2 linked regions of the Homo sapiens genome follow. The protein of the gene in region 2 purifies or fractionates together with the protein of the main gene of each other region. This does not show direct contact. Each region holds a gene or a part of one and is shown on either strand. Other genes may lie near its edges.

Evidence for each region. Proteins that work in one complex are often made in the same cells at the same time.
Region 1: the proteins of CCT2 (region 2) and WDR76 purify together in Homo sapiens (affinity purification with mass spectrometry; 4 studies listed by BioGRID and IntAct, with this or other methods). This does not show direct contact.

What each region holds. Positions count from the first base shown.
Region 1 is NC_000015.10:43,851,002-43,854,501, reverse strand, and holds part of WDR76 (WD repeat-containing protein 76), read right to left. Parts: intron 3,416-3,500; coding exon 3,257-3,415; intron 1-3,256. UniProt on the Homo sapiens protein: Specifically binds 5-hydroxymethylcytosine (5hmC), suggesting that it acts as a specific reader of 5hmC.
Region 2 is NC_000012.12:69,595,459-69,598,764, forward strand, and holds part of CCT2 (T-complex protein 1 subunit beta), read left to right. Parts: intron 1-1,697; coding exon 1,698-1,817; intron 1,818-2,179; coding exon 2,180-2,308; intron 2,309-2,509; coding exon 2,510-2,613; intron 2,614-2,863; coding exon 2,864-2,963; intron 2,964-3,306. UniProt on the Homo sapiens protein: Component of the chaperonin-containing T-complex (TRiC), a molecular chaperone complex that assists the folding of actin, tubulin and other proteins upon ATP hydrolysis.

The DNA of each region.
Region 1 (3,500 bases), on a different chromosome or scaffold from region 2:
CCCTTCCAGGTTCAAGTGATTCTCATGCCTCAGGCCTCCCAAGTAGCTGGGACCACAGGCGCATGCTACCACGCCCAGCTAATTTTTGTATTCTTTTAGAGGTGCGGTTTCACTATGTTGGCCAGGCTGGTCTTGAACTCCTGAGCTCTAGTGATCCACCCTCCTCGGCCTCTGTCAGTGCTGAGATTACAGGTGTGAGCTACCATGCCCAACCTATTCTTTGTATTATTGCAAATAATGCTTGTATGAACATTCCCGTACAAGTTTTTGTGTGGACATGTGCTTTCATTTCTCTTGGGTGTATACCTAGGAGGGATATTGCTAGGTCATATGGTAACTCTGTTTAACATTTAAGGAACTGTCAAACTTTCCCCAACCAACTTTACCATTTCACATACCAATTCTCAAAATATGAGGGTTTCAATTTTTCCACATCATTGTCAACACTTATTACTGGCAAGTATCGTTATCCTAGTGAGTGTAAAGGGGTATCTCATTGTGATTTGCATTTCCCTAATGAATAATGATGCTTAGAATCTTTTCATGTGCTTATTTGCCATTTGTGGGGTTTTTTTGTTTTTTTTTGTTTTTTTTTTTTGAGACAGTCTCGCTCTGTCGCCCAGGCTGGAGTGCAGTGGTGCAATCTCACCTCACTGCAAACTCCACCTCCCGGGTTCAAGCGATTCTCCTGCCTCAGCGTCCCCAGTAGCTGGGACTACAGGTGCCTGCCACCGCGCCTGGCTAATTTTTGTATTTTTAGTAGAGATGGGGTTTCACCATGTTGGCCAGGCTGGTCTCAAATTCCTGACCTCAGGTGATCCACCCGCCTCAGCCTCCCAAAGTTCTGGGATTACAGGGGTGAGCCACCGCACCCGGTGCCATTTGTGTTTCTTTAAAGAAATGTTTATTCAGATCCTTTGCCCATTTTTTAATTGGGTTAGCTTTTTTAATTAAGCTATAGGAGTTCTCCACCTATTGTTTTAAAGTCAAGCTTATTGAAATGTAAGTTACAGCCAGGCGCGGTGGCTCATGCCTGTAATACCAGCACTTTGGAAGGCCAAGGTGGGCAGATCACTTGAGCTCAGGAGTTTGAGACCAGCCTGGGCAACATGGCAAAACACCGTCTCTACTAAAAATACAAAAATTAGCCAAGCATGGTGACACATGACTATAGTTCCAGCTACTCAGGAGGCTTAGGTGGGAGGATCACGTGAGCCTGGGAGGCAGAGGCTGCGGTGAGCCGAGATCAAGCCACTTCACTCCAGCTGGAGTGACAGAGTGAGACCCCCATCTCAAAAAATAAAAATAAGTAAGGCCAGGCGTGGTGGCTCACACCTGTAATCCCAAGACTTTGGGAGGCCAAGGTGGGTGGATCACCTGAGGTCAGGAGTTCAAGACCAGCCTGGCCAACATGGGGAAACCCTGTCTCTACTAAAAATACAAAAATTAGCCAGGTGTGGTGGCACGTGCCTGTAATCCCAGCTACTCAGGAGGATGAGGCAGGAGAATTGCTTGAACCCGGGAGGTGGAAGTTGCAGTGAGCCAAGATTGCACTGCTGCACTGCAGCCTGGGCAACAAGAGCGAGACTCTGTTTCAAAAATAAATATATAAAGAAAGAATAGAAACACAAATGTTCATCAACTGATGAACAGATGAATAAAATGTGGAATACCCATACAATGGCATATTATGCAGCCATAAAAAGGAATGAAGTACTGATACACGGCTACAACATGGATGAACTTTGAATACATTTTGTTAAAGAAACCAGTCACAAAAGACCACAAATTGTATGATTTCATTTATATGAAATGTCCAGAAGAGGCAAATCTGACCACACACAGTGGCTCACGCTGTAATCCCAGCACTTTGGGAGGCTGAGGCAGGTGGATTACAAGGTCAGGAGTTCGAGACCAGCCTGGTCAACATGGTGAAACCCCGTCCCTACTAAAAATACAAAAATTAGCTTGGCATGGTGGCATGCGCCTGTAGTCCCAGCTACTCAGGAGGCTGAGACAGGAGAATCACTTGAACCTGGGAGGCGGAGCTTGCAGTGAGCCAAGATCGCACCACTGCACTCCAGCCTGGGCGACAGAGTGAGACTCCATCTCTACAACAACAACAACGACGACAACAACAACAACAACAAATTACCCGGGCGTGATGATGGGTGCCTGTAATCCCTGCTACTCAGGAGGCTGAGGCAGAAGAATTGCTTGAACCTGGGAGGCAGAAGTTGCAGTGAGCCGAGATCTCGCCACTGCACTCCAGCCTAGGTGACGAGAGTAAAACTCCGTCTCAAAAAAAATAAAATAAAAAAGTTCAACTTATAAGACTTATCTTATTGAGGCAATCTGATACAGTTAAGCAAATCTGAAAGTTCATTTCAAATGATATGTTTGTTTTAAACATTAAGTAGAAGATGTCTTATTTTGAGAGAGGGTCTCACTCTGTCACCCAGGCTGAAGTGCAATGATGTATGTGATCACGGCTTTACTACAGCCTCAATCTCCTGGGCTCAAGCAATCCTCACACCTCAGCCTCCTGAGTAGCTGTGACTACAGGCACATGCCACCACACCAAGCTAATTTTTTTTAGAGACAAGGTCTTACTATGTTGCCCAGGCTGATCTTGAACTCCTGGGCTCAAGTGATTCTCCCACCTCAGCCTCCTGAGTAGCTGAGACTACAGGCACACACCACCAAGCTCAGCTAATATTTTTTATTTTCTGTAGAGACAAGGTCTCGCCATGTTGCCCAGGCTGGTCTGGAACTCCTGGCCTGAAGTGAGTCTCCCACCTTGGCTTCCCAAAGTGCTGAGATTACAAGCATGAGCCACCACACCCAGCTAAATACAAGTCTTATGCCTAAAAACAGAAGAGTAAGTTATTTTAGTTAAAAGCTTTGGGAGAGAAAAAAAAAAGAAATTTAACAAGCGCAAACACATACTATGTGCCAGGCTCTCTTCTAAGTACTTTATCTGCATAAGCTCATTAAATTCTCATGACAACCCTGTAAGGTCAGTCCTGTTAAATCCCATTTCACAGCTAAGGAAAGTGAGGCACAACAAGGTTAAGCAACTTGTCAAGGTCATACAACTAGTAACAGATGATCTGGGATTTGAACTTAGGCAGCGTAGTTCTCAAAGTCCTTCTGCTATACCACTTCTCCCAATTGGTATAATAATTATTCATGTGGCATTTCGAAGAATCTAGAATATCATCTGAAGTCAGCATGTAAACACATTAACATTTACCTCTTCAAAAATAGCCCTGGAAAAATCCCCACAGCGTAACGTGCCATCATAGCTCAGTGACAGTATGTGGGCCGGATTGGCGGGTGAGAAGTAAAGACAGCTAACTGGCTGACTATGGGGATGAAAAACATAAACTCCATCTTCTTTAGGTTGCTGGGTCTGGAAGAGAGTTGCGGGAAAGGGGAGAGAGAAAAAAACTAGTGAAAAATAGTGATTTTTGCTATGCTATTATGTCATTAAAGAA
Region 2 (3,306 bases):
GTGGGCAGATCACAAGGTCTGGAGTTTGAGACCAGCCTGGTCAATATGGTGAAACCCTGTCTCTACTAAAAATAAAAAAATTAGCCAGGCGTGGTGGTGGGTGCCTGTAGTCGCAGCTACTCGGGAGGCTGAGGCAGGAGAATCACTTGAACCCGGGAGGTGGAGGTTGCAGTGAGCTGAGATTGGCGCCACTGCACTCCAGCCTGGGTGACAGAGCGAGACTCCGTCTCAAAAAAAAAAAAAAAAAAAGATGTAAGAAGTAAATGGTAATAATATATTGATGGGATAAACATATCGTAAGGTCTTGACATGAAATTGCTCTATACCCAGAAGAATGTTTATTAAGTACACCAACTGTATGTCTATGAAGGTGACCACATGGTGGCTCCCATCCTTAAAAGCTCAGTGGTTGTCAAAGGTGTATGATGACATTGGTTCTTGCAAGTGTCATTAAATAAATGTCTTGCACTGGGCATGGTGGCATGTGCCAGCAGTTTGATCTATTCAAGAGGCTGAGGCAGAAAGATTGCTTGTGCCCAGGAGGTTGTGCTATGATGGTGCCTGGTGAATAGTCATTGCGCTCCAGTCTAGGCAAGGTAGCAAGACACTCTCTCTTTAAAAAGAAAGAAAAGTCTCATGTAGAAGGATGAAGTGAAAAGTTTCATAAGCCAAGTTAGTCTTATTTTTGGATATGACGTCCCAAATATCTGTTGTGTCTCACATCTAGAACACAAAGCAGTCTCAGAATTTTGCCAGCCAAAAGTAAAAAGAACTTTATACAAATTATGAGTATAAATTAGTAGTTTCAAAGACCAGAGTCTTTATGAATTTATTATAAAATAAATAATAGAGCATTGACAGATTTATCAGTAAGGCATAGGAAAAGAAGGGTTGATTGATAATATATGCAATTCACATTATGAAAGGAGTAGTCAGCTAGAGAAAAGGATTTTGAAATGGAAACCTGACTTTTGCTTAGTTAGGAAATAGGGAACGAAGTGGCTGACCTGTTCAGTTTACAGCATGGAAGATGGAGGGAAAATAGGAATAGAAATGAGACATAAGGACTAAATTAATTTGTTCTTATTAAATTTGGTCTGGGAAATTCTTAGTATGCATTTCTTGTTTTTTTAGGCCTTAGGACATTTCATTTGTGATAATTAGAGATATCAGGTGCTTATTAAGCAGTTCATGAAGTGTATAGTGGTTGACTTATAGGACAAATATTTTCATGTCTTGTGCTGGGAATTGTATCATGAGGTCTTAGTCTTATAGGTTGGATTCAGAAGAGAATCTGAATTTAAACTCAAAAGTAACTGCTTTAAGACTCAGTTTAACCTTGGGAAGGTAGTATTGTATAGTGTGTGCTTATAGGTCTGAAGCCAGACTGCTTGAGTTTGAACCCCAGCTTTTTATATTCATCCTAGTTAGGTCTTTGGATAGGAAGGTAAACCTCTTGGCCTCATTTTTATCATGTGTAAAATGGGATAATAATGGAGCCTATCCAAGAGGATTATTTTAAAGATTAAATAATTAGTCGATATGAAGTATTTAAAAAGAGTGCCAGGAATATAATCAGCAATCAATTTTTAAAATGTGAAACACATTACCTATCATTATCTATCCATTACTGCTTATTAGAAAACAGGAATTTTAAGCCTGCTGTGCATTTAACTAATACATGTTTATGTTTATAGGTGGTGAAATTGCCTCTACCTTTGATCACCCAGAACTGGTGAAGCTTGGAAGTTGCAAACTTATCGAGGAAGTCATGATTGGAGAAGACAAACTCATTCACTTTTCTGGGGTTGCCCTTGGTGAGTGATTATGTAGATCCTGGTTAGGGTGTCTAAATTCTTGCTAGGCTCTGTTGAAGTAAAGGTTATTGTAGTTACTAGAATAGCATATCTTACAAGTCTTAACTCTTCAGAAGCATGATACATACTTTGTTTCAGTCTCTTGAGTCAACCTCATATTTACCGTGTCTTTGTGAACAGTGCATGTTCAACAGTTTTTTTTCCTTGATAACTTAGAACCATTATGAGCCTTGATTGTTGGAGAATGTATAATACAGGAAGACAGGTCAGCTTTCAGAACCCAGTAATATAACCAACACCGGCATAAATAATAGAAGGCAAACTTTTTATCCCTAAGTGGTCACTGTGTCTTTTAATTTTAGGTGAGGCTTGTACCATTGTTTTGCGTGGTGCCACTCAACAAATTTTAGATGAAGCAGAAAGATCATTGCATGATGCTCTTTGTGTTCTTGCGCAAACTGTAAAGGACTCTAGAACAGTTTATGGAGGAGGTAAGCATTTAGAAAATGTTGAATATATTTTTAATTTCTTAAAGTACAATATAAGTCATAAGTGGTTTTAATGGTTCTTACAGAAATCTTATATTGCTTTTGCACTAAATTTTAAAATGCTTGGCATATCTTAAAGTCAGTAATTCAGTATCTTGGAGACAACTAAGCATTGCAATATTTTATTGGAATTTTAATCTTTAGGCTGTTCTGAGATGTTGATGGCTCATGCTGTGACACAGCTTGCCAATAGAACACCAGGCAAAGAAGCTGTTGCAATGGAGTCTTATGCTAAAGCACTGAGAATGGTAAGTTAATCAAAATGAGAGATCCGAACTTAAGTTTTGTGGTTATTGATAGTTTTAAAATGAGTAGAAAATGAACTGGTTAATACTGCTTTTAAATTTGATTCTGGAGTTTCTCCTCTTCGTGAGCAGTAACTGAAGCAGATTTTACATTGTTCCTAAATGTATAATTTTAAAAAGCTATCCTAGTTAGGAGTAAATCAGTGGTTCTTACAGTAGAGTGAGTAGTTACTTGTTTTCTTCATTTTCATAGTTGCCAACCATCATAGCTGACAATGCAGGCTATGACAGTGCAGACCTGGTGGCACAGCTCAGGGCTGCTCACAGTGAAGGCAATACCACTGCTGGATTGGGTAAGCAATCAAGGGGAACTTTGTGGCCGTTGTTAAAAGTAACTCTTTTCACTAAGCTTTTTTTTTCTTTTGGAACATAAAGAGTTACAATAACCGTATAAAAGACTCTTTTGGACTTTGTCCTCATAATCATTACATGTGCTGGGAAAATGTGTGTGACTTTATATGCTCAGCATTTCCCAAACTTTGTTATTCCATAAGACATGTAAAACTGGTTAGAAGATTTGTAACTATTTGGTATATAACGACTATAGGATTTAAATATAAACAATACTTACATTCTGAAAAATAACATAAACTATTATGTTGTTTATACAATCAGTATTAACTTCTAATTTCATAG